Homo sapiens: one gene and its partner. The protein of the gene in region 1 interacts with the protein of each later gene in a biochemical or structural test. Each region holds a gene or a part of one and is shown on either strand. Other genes may lie near its edges. The genes, in order: ADAR and TRIM47.

The links.
Region 2: of the proteins of ADAR (region 1) and TRIM47, one has a biochemical effect on the other in vitro, tested with the Homo sapiens proteins (one study listed by BioGRID).

Annotation. Positions count from the first base shown.
Region 1 is NC_000001.11:154,583,940-154,591,205, reverse strand, and holds part of ADAR (double-stranded RNA-specific adenosine deaminase), read left to right. Parts: intron 1-796; coding exon 797-1,022; intron 1,023-1,277; coding exon 1,278-1,449; intron 1,450-1,743; coding exon 1,744-1,837; intron 1,838-2,532; coding exon 2,533-2,655; intron 2,656-2,947; coding exon 2,948-3,081; intron 3,082-4,842; coding exon 4,843-5,025; intron 5,026-5,340; coding exon 5,341-5,453; intron 5,454-5,861; coding exon 5,862-5,989; intron 5,990-6,162; coding exon 6,163-6,400; 3' UTR 6,401-7,266. UniProt on the Homo sapiens protein: Catalyzes the hydrolytic deamination of adenosine to inosine in double-stranded RNA (dsRNA) referred to as A-to-I RNA editing.
Region 2 is NC_000017.11:75,875,476-75,882,958, forward strand, and holds the start of TRIM47 (E3 ubiquitin-protein ligase TRIM47), read right to left. Parts: upstream 3,107-7,483; 5' UTR 3,074-3,106; coding exon 2,399-3,073; exon of another isoform or gene 2,376-2,398; intron 2,350-2,375; exon of another isoform or gene 2,246-2,349; intron 1,339-2,245; coding exon 1,243-1,338; intron 1,018-1,242; coding exon 787-1,017; intron 625-786; coding exon 426-624; intron 1-425. UniProt on the Homo sapiens protein: E3 ubiquitin-protein ligase that mediates the ubiquitination and proteasomal degradation of CYLD.

The DNA of each region.
Region 1 (7,266 bases):
CTTCATAATCTTCCTTTATAGTAAGGACAGGCTCAGAGCCTTTGCAGGTAACAGTATCTAGTCAGAATTTTATAACATGATTTTATCATATTCTGTTTTACAGCCACCTTCAATATGTGGCAAGTGATACTGGTTTTCCATTTACAGTAGTGAAACAAAGTTTCCTATTTCAGTGTGTTTACATTTTTATCTCTTTTTTCATACCTAGTATTACGGATATTTACATTTTTAGAGTCTGTTTGTTTATTTTAGAGATGGGGATCTTGCTGTCTCGCGCAGGCTGGAGTGCAGTGATATGGTCATAGCTCACTGCAGCCTTGACCTCCAGGGCTCAAGTGATCCTCTCACCCCAGCCTCCCAAGTAGCTGAGACTATAGGCACAGACCACCGTGCCCAGCTAAATTTTTTTTTTTTTTTTTAAGAGACAGGGGTCTCGCTATGTTGCCTGGGGGATTACTATGTTGCCCAGGCTGGTCTTGAACTCCTGGCCTCAAGTGATCTCCCACCTTAGCTCCTCAAGTTGCTGGGATTACAGGTGTGAGCCACAATGGCTGGCTCTAAGAAGTCAATTTAGAGAAAAATATTAATTAATAGTCCAAGTAATACCTGGATGTGGCACAAATCATGTGGTGATTCATGAATGACCAAAATCTAGGAAATGCTGCCTTAGAAACAGCTTCTGTTTGACGGGTCCATATGTTTGCAAGACTGGCCACATCTTCAGCAAAACTAACCCTTCCTTGGAACAATGTCAGGGTCTGGCACTTGTCTTCATTCTCTGTTTCTCATCCCAAAGGTTCGTTTACCAAGCAAAAGTTGGGGGTCGCTGGTTCCCAGCCGTCTGCGCACACAGCAAGAAGCAAGGCAAGCAGGAAGCAGCAGATGCGGCTCTCCGTGTCTTGATTGGGGAGAACGAGAAGGCAGAACGCATGGGTTTCACAGAGGTAACCCCAGTGACAGGGGCCAGTCTCAGAAGAACTATGCTCCTCCTCTCAAGGTCCCCAGAAGCACAGCCAAAGACAGTTAAGACGTCTACTTTTGGTGCCTTTTTTGGGGCGGGGGGGTCCTCCTAACTCCTAAGTGGAGGTGGCTCTTGCTGTCATGCGAGTTATTCCTAGGCTTTACTCTTAGCCTCGAGAGAGCAGTAACTGGGACACTAGATGTAAGAAGGAAAAGATGACTCACACGACAAGTAGAGCTTGATCTCCCTGCCCACGGTGAATATGGTGGACACAGCCTCAGCTTTGTGGTGCTGACACAGCCTCTTTTCCCCACAGCTCCCTCTCACTGGCAGCACCTTCCATGACCAGATAGCCATGCTGAGCCACCGGTGCTTCAACACTCTGACTAACAGCTTCCAGCCCTCCTTGCTCGGCCGCAAGATTCTGGCCGCCATCATTATGAAAAAAGACTCTGAGGACATGGGTGTCGTCGTCAGCTTGGGAACAGGTGAGTGAGGCTCTGAGACATGCCGCCTCCCATGGCGCCTGAAAGCGGGTGCCTCTCATCCTCCCCTGGAGTCCATGCATGTAAGTCCAAGGCAGGGAGAAGAGACTTCATTTTAGCTACAGTCAATTCAGAGTGAGGAATGAGTTCTTAGTTCCTAGAGGAGAGAATATGGGAGTCTAGGATCTGAGAAACTGAGGCTGTTTCTGCCTTGAAGCTTTCAGAACAAATAGCCTTCATCCTGTTTTCCATCGGTTTCCTTCCATTATTCTATTTCTGTTTTAAACACCTTCCTAGGGAATCGCTGTGTGAAAGGAGATTCTCTCAGCCTAAAAGGAGAAACTGTCAATGACTGCCATGCAGAAATAATCTCCCGGAGAGGCTTCATCAGGTGAGCGAGGTCAGAGCTGTGGCCCGGCTGCCCGGCTGTGGAGAGCTCCAGTTCCCTGCCCCACATGGCTCTGACACGGCCTCTGAATCCCCCTCAGACAGACGGGTCATGATGTGGCAGTGGCAGCCTTTGCTTTTCACCCGTCCATTTGAACCTGTCTGATGGAATCCATCCCCTCTGTGAGCTGAGCTGCCTCCCACTGCTCGGCCTGTTTTTAAATGCTGTCCTTTTTTCTGCTAACTCTGCTGCTTCATGTTCTTTTCTAAAAACACAAAATGACCTTTTAGTCCTCAGGGCCTTGAGGATGAGGCAGCTTTCCATTTCCGTTTGAGGACCTACACAACCTTGATGCCCCTGCCAGCTTTCTCCTCTAGCTCACCTTTTCTTTAATTTATGAAGGGAGAGACTTAGAAAGGAGCAACAGCTTCCTGTAGTCCTTGAATCAGTTTGCTCTGCTCTAGAATCCCTGTAGCCGCCATAGCGAGGAGCCCTCAGCAGAAATGAAGGAGACCCAAAAGGCTAACTATGCTTTATGAAATGCTGAGGTCTCCCCTGGAGAATTTCCACCTGATAAACTGTGAAACGTCTGCAACATTGAGACTTTTCCTTACTTTCTCATTTGGAGGTCAGATTATAGAAACAACTGCTTTTCCCAGAATTGAACCTGCCTTCCTAACCAGACTTTCTTTTTGTAGGTTTCTCTACAGTGAGTTAATGAAATACAACTCCCAGACTGCGAAGGATAGTATATTTGAACCTGCTAAGGGAGGAGAAAAGCTCCAAATAAAAAAGACTGTGTCATTCCATCTGTATATCAGGTCTGTACAGTTCCTGTTGCTGCCAGGGTGGGCCCTGCCAGGCTGTTAGAATTGGGTATCCAAATGCTCTCCTGGCCTGTAAATCGAACCTGATACAATAAGCCACACTCCACTGTGGGTTTGAGGTCCATATTCAGGTGTAGATGACTCACATGTACTGCTGTCCACCTCCAGTCTCCCATGGTAGGCCTTAGAAAACATCCCTTGCTTCTGTCACATCTGACTGTTTTGGAGCCCCACGAAATTGCAGATTTCCCACAGGTGAGTTTTAACAGCCACCCCTGTTTTTCAGCACTGCTCCGTGTGGAGATGGCGCCCTCTTTGACAAGTCCTGCAGCGACCGTGCTATGGAAAGCACAGAATCCCGCCACTACCCTGTCTTCGAGAATCCCAAACAAGGAAAGCTCCGCACCAAGGTGGAGAACGGTGAGTGATACATGCCCCCGCCTCCTTTCCTCAAAAGGCTCTGCAAGGTCCAGGGACCCCAAGTCTCTACAAGGCTGCTAGGATTTTACCATTAGTCACTGGGCACAGAGGTGCTGTTTACAGGAAAGGGAAGACCTGGGTCAGGGAGCTGTGTGGTAAGATCAGGGTTCTATTTTGAATGTGTTAGTTTGGGAGATCTGGGAGATCCCCAAGTCAAATAGGAGGTGGGGGTTCCCATGTGGAGCTCAGAGGAGGGAGCTTGGCTGGAAATAGAAATATGGGAGTCATCCCCCTATAGGGTCTTCATGGCCATGAGAATGCATAGGATTACCTCAAGAAAGCGGGGAGGAAATGAAGAGTGCGGCACAACCAAGCCCTGAGGAGTTGACAGATGAGGATGCCAAATGCTGGGGTCCCCTCCTGTCTAGCTGGCAGTTGACTCTGCCTTGTCCACTGGCTCCTTCTCTCCTATCCTCTCCTGTCTCCTTACTGTCTCTTCGCATCCACTCCATTGCGTTCAGGCCACGTCAGCAGTCATCATGGTGGTCCTGAAACCTTGCTAAATACCCTAAAGTATAGACACAGTTACCATGGAGCCGGTGCTCCACTCCTAGGTATATGCTGCAGAGAGATGGAGATCTGTGTCCACACGGAAACTAATATGTGAATGTTCATGGCAGCATTACTCACAAGAGCCAAAAAAGTGGAAACAACCCAGACGTCCATCAGCTGATGGATTCATAAATAAAACATCAAATATATCCATAAATTGAATATTATTTTGGCCATAAAAAGAAGTGAAGTGCTGATACATGCTTACAATATGGATGCACTTGAAAACTTGATGCCAAATGAAAAAAGCCAGTCACAAAAGATCACATATTGTATGATTCCATTTATATGAAATGTCCAGAATAGACAAATCCATAGAGACAGAAAGTAGATGAGTGGTTGCCAGGGCCAGGAGTGGGAGAGTTGGAGAGATGAGGAGTGACTGCGCCAATGGGTAGAAGGTTTCTTTTTGGAGCGATGAAATGTTCTAAAATTGACTGTGGTGACAGTTGCAGAACTCTGTGAATATACTAAAAATGACTGAATTGTATGCTTTAAATGGGTGAACTGTATGGCATATGAACTATATCTCAGTAAAGCATTTTTTTTTGTTTTTTTTTAAACCCGATAGTGGTTTCCCACTGCACTGCATATACAAGCAAAACCTGCTGTGATCACCCGGCCTCCTCTCATGCCACTTTCCCCATCCCTCGCATATGCTCTGTCCACACTGGCTCTCTGTCAGGCGCCTGAACAGCCAATCCGCTGGCTGCCTTGGGGCCTTTGCTTTTGTCCTGTGTGCCTGAAACACTTACTCCAGCTGTCCTCCTCCATGTCTGGGCTCCCCTGCTGCTGCTGTCCCAGGAGGTGTCCCCTGTGGTCCTCCGTCATAGCTGCCTCAGAGCCTTCAGAGCACTGTCAGCATCTGGAATTCTTCCGTATGTACTGGCTACTGGTTTAGTGTCTATTCTCTTCCCTTTCAATCTCCTCACCACCATAGATGTTTTAAGAGCACAAAGATCTTACTTGGTTTTGCTCACCGTTCTTTCCCAGCACCAAGCATAGTGCCTGGCGCATAGCAGGGGCTGTGAAATATGTGAAGAATGAATGAATGTAGCCTGTGGCCCAAGCTTAAGGAGGATAGAAACCACGCCAGGGAGTGGTTTGGTCCATTGGCGCCTGTGGGTCTGACCCAAGTCTCTCACACAGGAGAAGGCACAATCCCTGTGGAATCCAGTGACATTGTGCCTACGTGGGATGGCATTCGGCTCGGGGAGAGACTCCGTACCATGTCCTGTAGTGACAAAATCCTACGCTGGAACGTGCTGGGCCTGCAAGGGGCACTGTTGACCCACTTCCTGCAGCCCATTTATCTCAAATCTGTCACATTGGGTAAGGGGCCTGCCTTGGGATCTGGAACTGGTCTGTCCTTCTTGTGCCCAGATCCCAAACTGCATGCTTTATTGCCAGGTGTTTTGTCTCCCTTATCAAAGTGAGCATGATTCACTCCTCAGTAATTGATTGAGTGTCCAGTCTGCTGTGGTAGGAAGATCCTGGTAGCCCCAGTCAGAAGGTGCTTCCTAACAAGGCAGCTGTTTCTCTTTCTTGACAACTATATCTTGTACCTCCAAAATCCCCACATGCTTCTGCCTCTTAACAGCATTTGGTGCAAACACAGGTATATATGTTTCTCTTTTTTGTACTCAGGTTACCTTTTCAGCCAAGGGCATCTGACCCGTGCTATTTGCTGTCGTGTGACAAGAGATGGGAGTGCATTTGAGGATGGACTACGACATCCCTTTATTGTCAACCACCCCAAGGTGCTATAACCCCCTTCTATTTTCCCTGACATTTTCCTCCTTTTCAAGCAGTCATGTAAACAGAGGAAAAATGTACACTGTGGGCAAGGGGAACATTGCCCACAGTGGTAGCCCACAAGGGAACATTGCCCACAGTGGCCCACCACCAACATTGGTTGGTCTCCCAAGAACTTAAACTTTCTTCCTTTTGGATGCCAAGGGCTTTTCTTCTCTTAGTCTGGAATTAATCTGAATCGAGGTGGAGTTAGTATGTCTAGAGGGTGCTCAGTCTTAGCCAAACAGAACCCTAAATACAGGGGAAAGATCATGACCCCACACTTCCTCTCTCCTATGAGTCTTGAGTCCCTGCTTCAGAATCTTATTCCTGAAAGGTTTCCATCTTTCTCCCGTTGCTTCTGGGATTCCTAGGTTGGCAGAGTCAGCATATATGATTCCAAAAGGCAATCCGGGAAGACTAAGGAGACAAGCGTCAACTGGTGTCTGGCTGATGGCTATGACCTGGAGATCCTGGACGGTACCAGAGGCACTGTGGATGGGTAAGGAGACAGGAGAGCGCAGTGAGGACCAAGCCTCTGCCCTGACTTGCAAGGGTGCATCATACCTCTGCAGTCTCAGGGCTTGAGAGCCGCCTCCCCTCCCACGGTGTCTCCACTGTGAGCTCCTTATCTTACAGGTCCCAGGTGAATAATGAGTGCTTTTGTTTCTCTAGGCCACGGAATGAATTGTCCCGGGTCTCCAAAAAGAACATTTTTCTTCTATTTAAGAAGCTCTGCTCCTTCCGTTACCGCAGGGATCTACTGAGACTCTCCTATGGTGAGGCCAAGAAAGCTGCCCGTGACTACGAGACGGCCAAGAACTACTTCAAAAAAGGCCTGAAGGATATGGGCTATGGGAACTGGATTAGCAAACCCCAGGAGGAAAAGAACTTTTATCTCTGCCCAGTATAGTATGCTCCAGTGACAGATGGATTAGGGTGTGTCATACTAGGGTGTGAGAGAGGTAGGTCGTAGCATTCCTCATCACATGGTCAGGGGATTTTTTTTTCTCCTTTTTTTTTCTTTTTAAGCCATAATTGGTGATACTGAAAACTTTGGGTTCCCATTTATCCTGCTTTCTTTGGGATTGCTAGGCAAGGTCTGGCCAGGCCCCCCTTTTTTCCCCCAAGTGAAGAGGCAGAAACCTAAGAAGTTATCTTTTCTTTCTACCCAAAGCATACATAGTCACTGAGCACCTGCGGTCCATTTCCTCTTAAAAGTTTTGTTTTGATTTGTTTCCATTTCCTTTCCCTTTGTGTTTGCTACACTGACCTCTTGCGGTCTTGATTAGGTTTCAGTCAACTCTGGATCATGTCAGGGACTGATAATTTCATTTGTGGATTACGCAGACCCCTCTACTTCCCCTCTTTCCCTTCTGAGATTCTTTCCTTGTGATCTGAATGTCTCCTTTTCCCCCTCAGAGGGCAAAGAGGTGAACATAAAGGATTTGGTGAAACATTTGTAAGGGTAGGAGTTGAAAACTGCAGTTCCCAGTGCCACGGAAGTGTGATTGGAGCCTGCAGATAATGCCCAGCCATCCTCCCATCCTGCACTTTAGCCAGCTGCAGGGCGGGCAAGGCAAGGAAAGCTGCTTCCCTGGAAGTGTATCACTTTCTCCGGCAGCTGGGAAGTCTAGAACCAGCCAGACTGGGTTAAGGGAGCTGCTCAAGCAATAGCAGAGGTTTCACCCGGCAGGATGACACAGACCACTTCCCAGGGAGCACGGGCATGCCTTGGAATATTGCCAAGCTTCCAGCTGCCTCTTCTCCTAAAGCATT
Region 2 (7,483 bases), on another chromosome or scaffold:
TGTAGAAGAGGAGACAGTGGTGAGAACGCCCCCAGACTGCCCCCCTCTGAACCTGTGACTACAATCCCTACCCCCTTCACTTCCTCCCAGAGTCCAGAGCCACCAGGGAGCAAGCACCACCCAGATGTGGCACGCTGTGCTCACACACATGCCCGTTGCCTGTGTTCTGCCTCTTGCCCCATGTGCTTCCCGGGCCACAGCCCTCTGGAGCTAGAGGGTGGGCTAGGAGAAGCCCCCTCTACCCCAGGTCCAAGGGGCTGATTGATCCCCACAGGGTGGCAGCTCTAGTCACTGGCAGGATTTGGGCTCCTCCCTGTGCCAGGCACAATTTTCCTCCTCCACTTCTGGATGGGCGCCAGGCCTGGGGGCCTGTGCGAGAGGCTGGCAGAGGGTGAGTCATCGGGGGGGCGTGGGGCGGTGCCCACCTTCCGAGTCCAGCTTCTGTGGCCCATCCTCGTTGCCACCCGGCCCCCTCAGCTGCTCCCACTGGTTGACGCAGGCCACGGCCAGCATGTCTCTCACTGCACGGACAGCTTGGGATGATTTGGTGAAGCTGAGCTCCCTCGGGGGTCCAGGCCCAGGGCCACACCCATCCTCCAGGGCCAGCCTTAGTGCCAGCAGCTCCTGTGCCAGACAAATGCCCATTAAAGTGCTGCTGGCCATGGCTCCTCCTTGCTGGGGGTGGAGGCAGCTCTGCCAGGAAGTCATGCACCCACTGCCTCCTCCTCCCTCCACCCCACCTGTCCCAGCTTCTGTTCCTTCCGTGGCCCCCAGAGCGGCCTTCACCTGCAGGAAGCTGACTGAGTCAGCTTCAGGGACCTGGCTGAGATTCTGGCGGGCTCGGCTCAGGCGGCTGCGCTGTTCCTCCTGTCGCCGCAGGTCACCCTGGGAGCGGCCTAGCATGGCAGCTTCCCCCTCCTCGATGAAGCCCAGCACCTGGGTCTGGAAGCCCTGCAGGGCGGCCGCAGCATCTGCAAACAGCCGGCTCACCCTCTCCCGCTCTGCTACGGCTGCACTCTGCACAGGACGACAGTAGAGGGGGCAATGAGGGCAAAGAACCGTCCCGGACTGTACCCCCCTCCTTCCCTGACCCCGGCTTCCCACCGGCCCTCTTGAGGGGACAGAGGGGCCAGACTGAGCCTGTCCTGGATCTGGGCCAGGTCAGGGGACACTTGTGCTCAGTAGGTATGGGCATGGTTTGTTTGGAGTGGATTGTTCCATGCTGAGGGAGGGGTGTTTGACCTTGATGAGGGCCACTGTGCGCCTGGACTGTGCAATGCCAGCACCCAGCTCGTCCATGCGGTCCTCCACGGCGCTCAGGACTTTGGACTGCTCAGCCTGTGGACAACACCCTCCATGAGTGTGAGGTCTGGCAGAGGCCACAGCCCTACACTCGGGTCCCAGGCCTTGCCAGGGGAGAGAAGGGGGTGACTGGGGAGTGGTATCTGTGCATCAGGTGGGACTGGAGTGGCCACGATGTCCCATAATATGCCAGAGGTGCCTGCAGCCCAGGCTGGTGCCTTTCCTGAACGCCTGGGGGGCGTGCAGGCTGACTGGGTGTCTGCCTCGGGTCTCTGACAGGAGGCCTAGTACAGGGCCGTCCGCTGGTCTCAGTGTTGCTCAGATGAATTTGAGAACTTCCTCCGGCGGGGAAGAGGCAGAGAGTAAGCCAGTTAGGTTGGGAGGTGGGCGGCGGAGGGGTGACTGCACAAGGAGGCATTAAGCTGTCCTGAGGATCACTGTTCCCAAAGAGCCTGCATCCACAGTCCAGGCCTGGAAAAAAGGGGATTCCGGGCAAATCCCCTAGGTCTTATGAGTCACTGCTCCAGGCAGGAGAAACGGAAAATCCCTTGGCCAGAGGCGCCAAGACCGGGCTGGAGGCCAAAGGAAACTGGGGGCGGGAGGTAGAGGCCGCGGCTCACATGCTCCCACCACTGGCCCCCGGAACAGCTGGACAGAGAATCTGTGTGCCCGGTCGCCCTCTGCCGCCCTCCTGCCGCCTGCCACACCCATCGAAAGCTGCTGCCTCAGCCCAGGGCAAATCTGAGCTGAGACCGGCGTGACCCTCCGGGCGGGAGCAGCAGCCACGCTACCGGAACCCCGCGGGCCTAACCCGGCTCCCTCCCGCCTACACCCCCATAGACCCCGGCCCGGCTTCAGGTCCCCTGCCCGCTCTTCGCGTCCTTGTCCTGTTCTCACGTCCCTCCTTCCTCCCTTCCCATCTCCATCACCGCCAGCAGATGACCTTGTCAAGGCTGGAAGGGACCGCAAAGATCCTCAGGTTAGAGGAGGAGATTAAGACCCAACCCGGGAAGACTGGGGGGTCCAAGGTCCTCGGCCCGCTCGCGCGCGGTCGGTCACCAGCCCCGGCTCACCCGAGTGTGCCCCCGGAGCCCACCTCCTGAAGCGCGCGCTCCTGCTCCAGCGGCACCAGCTCGTGGCCGCGGTGCTCCTGTGCGGCGCAGGCCTCGCACAGACACACGCGCTCCGCGCGGCAGTAGCGCTCGAGCGGCCGTAGGTGGCGCGGGCACAGGCTCTCCTCTAGCCGGCGCAGCGGCGGCACCAGGCGGTGTCCGCGGAGGGCGGGGCTGCGCTCGTGCGGGCCCAGGTGCGCGGGGCAAAAGGAGGCGAGGCAGGAGAGGCAGGACAGCGCGGCGGGCAGGGCCGCGCCCTCGGGGCACGCGTCGCAGCGCACTGGCTCTTCGCCCGCGGGCCACGGCTCGGGAGCGCAGGGGGCCGACGGCTCCGGGACACTGGGCAGCGCGCTGGGTGCCGAGGGCTCCGGGGCCAGGGCAGGGGCCGGGCCGGGGCCGGACCCGGGGCCCGAGCCCTGGCGGAGCTGCAGCAGCTCGGACAGCGTGTGGTTCTTGCGGAGCTGAAGGCCGTCGGGGAAGGGCTCCTGGCACAGCGGGCAGCGGGCCGCGCCTCCGGGTCCGCCGGCTCCACTCGCGCCACGATGCGGCCAGAGCGCGCCCAGGCAGGCGAGACAGAAGTTGTGGCCGCAGGGCAGCGTCACCGGCTCCCGGAGTGGCTCTAGGCAGATGGGGCAGCTGAAGGGTCCACTGCCGTCCATGACTCCGCGGCCGCCCAGGGCGCCGCCGATTGTGCTCCGGCCTGGGAGGGACCCGGGCCGTTCGCGCCGCGGCACCTCCCCCTGGGACCTAGGCCAGGGCTCCGGCCCCCGCCCGCCCCCAGCTCGGCCCGCCCCGCAGCACCGCCCGCCTGCGGGCCCGCGGACTCCCAGTCCCCGCCCAGACAACGCAGGGAGGCCTCCGAGCCCGCGCGACCCCCAGGGGAGTCCGCGTGGTCCTAAGGAAGGGCGCTGCTGAAAGGGTGTGAAACTGAGTGAGCGCGGGCGGAGAACGCGAGAGGTACAGTGGAAGGAATGGGAAGGACTCAGCCTCCATCCCTCTGGTCCTTCTGGGCCAGGCCAGCGCTCCGCAGGGGCTGGGCGCGTCTAGCTGTGTCATGCCTGCACCTTTGCGCTCGACCCCTCCCTGGCACCCTTAGCAAAGTTCCTGAGCTGCTGACTGCAGAGAAAAATAACTGCTGATGTACATATGTTTTTGCCCCTTAGCGACTCTTTTTTTTTTTTTTTTTGAGACAGAGTTCCTCTCTTGTCGCCCAGGCTGGAGTGCAGGGGCGCTATCTCGGCTCACTGCAACCTCCGCCTCCCGGATTCAAGTGATTCTCCTGCCTTAGCCTCCCAAGTAGCTGGAATTATAGGCGCTTGCCACCACACCAGGCAAATTTTTGTATTTTTTTGTAGAGACGGAGTTTCACCTTGTCCAGGCTGGTCTTGAACTCGTGACCTCAGGTGATCCACCTGCCTCGGCCTCCCAAAGTGCTGGGATTACAGGCGTGAGCCACAGCGCCCAGCTCCTTTAGCGACTCTTTACCCCAAGTAGGGAACTTGGACTTTTCTAGACCTGAAATGGGAAGTTGACGTCATTCCCTAAGTCCCTTGTCTGAGGAATGTAGTTCTGGCCCCTGGACACTGGGGACACCTGTGGTGGGGTTGGGGGTTCCCCAACTGGAAGTATTTAAAGCTCATCTAATTATGCACTTAAAGTGGTGCGTTTTATTGTATGAGTTATATCTCAATAATGTTAAGTTAAAACACTACACCAGAATGACAACAAAATAAGTAAAGTAGCACTGATTATAACCCAAAGTGTAAAATAAACATCTATGAGTCCATGCCGATATAAATAAATAATAAATTAACAAGCTGGGGAGAACAGACATATTTCGCATTGAAAATTCCAAATAATGTTTTTTTATTTTTATTTTTTTAGATGGAGTTTCGCTCTTGTCGCCCAGGCTGGAGTGCAGTGGCGCAATCTCAGCTCACTGCAACCTCTGTCTCCTGGGTTCAAGCGATTCTCCCTCCTCGGACTCTTGAGTAGCTGGGATTACAGGCGCCCGCCACCACATTTGGCTAATTTTTGTATTTTTAGTAGAGACGGGGTTTCACCATGTTGGCCAAGCTGGTCTCGAACTGCTGACTTCAGGTGATCCACCCGCCTCGGCCTCCCAAAGTGCTGGGATTACAGACATGAGCCACCGCACCCAGAGATATCTGTAATTTTGGTTAGTGACAAAGTCACAGGTAACTGCTCATACCACTCTGGTGTATTCTCTCCATTTGGAATAGAAAGAAATGCTGTGTTTCAGTAAGGTGCTGCAGCGTGGCTTCCTTCTGCAGGATCTGAGGGAGACTCTGTCCTGGGCGTCTGTCCCAGCTTCTGGTACTGGCTGGCAATTCTTGGCGTTCCTTGGCTTGTAGCTGTAAGATGCGCTCTAATATCAGTCTCTGTTGTCATTTGCCTTTTCTCTGTGTCTGTGTTCAAATGTCCTTTTTTTTTTTTTTTTTAGGGAGTCTTGCTCTGTTGCCCACTCAAACTGCTGGGCTCGAGTAATCTGCCTGCCTCAGCCTCCCAAAGTGCTAGGATTACAGGCGTGAGCCACTGTGCCCGGTGCCCATTTCCTCTTATCAGGACACCAGTTGTTGGATTAGGGCACGCTCTACTCCAGTATGCCCTCATCTTAACTCAGTCACATCTGAAAATACTCTATTTCCAAATAAGGTCACAGCCACAGGTCCTGGGGGTTAGGATCCGAATACGTCTTTTTCAGGGAACAGGATTCAACCTATAACAGTGCATAAGTAAGGAAATGTTGGAGAGAGGCCCAGGCCCAAATGTGCTAGAGGTCATGCATGTCCCCCGGTGTTCCTGGCCCTCTCTGTGTTCCAGGACCCTGGCCCTTCCCTAAACCTCAGCACACACTGCTGCTTGTCCCACACCCAAACCCTTGTCCACCTCTCCCACCGGGTCTGCATTCCTGCCTCTGTTTCCCCAGCTCTCTAGGCTTGGGGGGTGGGAAAATACCCTCAGGTCCCCTGAGACCAGACTAGAAATGTTCAGAAGGCACTTCATGAGTTCAGAGCTAAAGAGGAGAAAACACAAGCAAAAGAGCACAAATGTGCCGGGTGTGGTGGCTCACGCCTGGAATCCCAGGACTTTGGGAGGCTGAGGCGGGCGGATCACTTGAGGTCACGAGTTCCAGACCAGCCTGGTTAACATGGCGAAACCCCATCTCTACTAAAAATACAAAAAAATTAGCCGGGCGTGGTGGTGCACACACTTGTATTCCCAGCTACTCGGGAGTCTGAGGCAGGAGAATCGCTTGAACCAAGGAGGCAGAGGTTGTGCCACTGTACTCTCCAGCCTCGGTGACACAGCGAGACTCCATCTCAAAAAAAAAAAAAAAAAAAAAAGAAAAGAAAAGAAGAAAGAAAGAAGGAGGGACCCAGCCTCTTGGGGAGGGAGCTGGCTCTCCAGGCACTCAGGAACCCCTGTCTTAGTGTGTCTGGGCTGCTATCCCAGAACACCAGAGACTGGGTGGCTTATACACAACAGACACTCCTCACAGTTCTGGAGGCTGGAAGTCTGCGATCACGGTGACAGCACAGTCAGGGTTCCAGTGAGAGCTGCTTCCTGGGTTGTAGATGGCTGCCTTCCCACTGTGTCCTCACATGGCCAAGAGACAGCCAGAGAGCCTTTGGGGCCCCTTGGACAAGGGCACTCATGCCATGAATGAGGCTCCGCCCACCTGAAGACCCCACCTCCTAGGACCATCACCTTAGGGGTCAGGATCTCAACACATCAATTCTGAGGGTACACACACATTCAGACTGTTGCAACTCCAAGTGCCAAAAGAGCGGTGCAATCTGCTCCTGGGGGCTCCATGGGAAAGGCTGGGGAACTGTGGAAGTGGCATTTGAGCTGGGCTTTCACAGACTGCCAGGACTCAGGCGGGCAGAGACTGGGGTGGGAAAAGACCTTCCGGGCAGAGGGAGTAGCAGAGGGAGCCGGCCTGGGTGTGTCTGATTTGGCAGGAGGGTGGGTAATGAGTTCCATACATTGGTTTCCACCAAGAGCACTAGAGCACTTGATCAGGACTATCACTTGTTTGCCAAGCCCCAGGAGCGGTTGGGAGGCCCAGGCATCAGTGCCACCCTGCTCCGTGGCTTTGGTGCCCAGGCTGCCTGGGTTTGGTGAGGCCACAAACCTGCCTGGTTCTGGAAGGAGGGGGTGCCTTTCCGGTTGGGTCCCAGCCAACCCTCTGCTCCCCACCCACAGCCTGCTGTCCTCCCTGCTTGAAAAGATCTGCTCCCCAGGAGGAAAGCACAGAGATGCGGTTTGTCAGTGTGGTGGCATCTTGCTACTTCTTTTCTTTTTTTTTCAAATGGAGTCTCGCTCTGTCGCCCAGGCTGGAGTTCAGTGGCGCAATCTCATCTCACTGCAACCTCCACCTTCTGGGTTCAAGCGATTCTCCTGCTTCAGCCTCCCCAGTAGCTGGGATTACAGGCATGCATCACCACGCTCGGCTAAATTTTGTATTTTTTAGTGGCGATGGGGTTTCACCATGTTGGCCAGGCTGGTCTCAAACCCCTGACCTCAGGTGATCTGCCTGCCTCGGCCTCCCAAAGTGCTGGGATTACAGACGTGAGCCACCGCGCCCAGCCTGGCATCTTGCTATTTCATTTCCATTTCCAGAGTTTTGAAGTTGTTTGCCTAGTGTATTAGTTCACTTCAAAATGAATTGTCTAAGAGTCAAGGGCAAGGGTAACTGGCACCATGTGAGCTCAGCATGTTCACACCTGCCCTCATTCTGTCTGTCCAAGGACCCTATCCTAAAGGATGGCAACTGGAATTCCGATAGGTACCATGTCTTGCCAGAGGTCACATAACTTGTCCTGCAGAGGAAGCAGAATTTAAGCTCAAGAGGTTGCAGCTTGAATAATTATAAATCTCACATATGACTGTCTGGCTGTAGTAGTAGTGCTTGAGAAAAAAAGGAAAAAAATCAAACAAAAACAAGTGGCTGGGTGTGGTGGTTCACGCCTATAATCCTGGGACTTTGGGAGCCAAGGCACGAGGACTTGAGCTCAGGAGTTTGAGACCAGCCTGGGCAA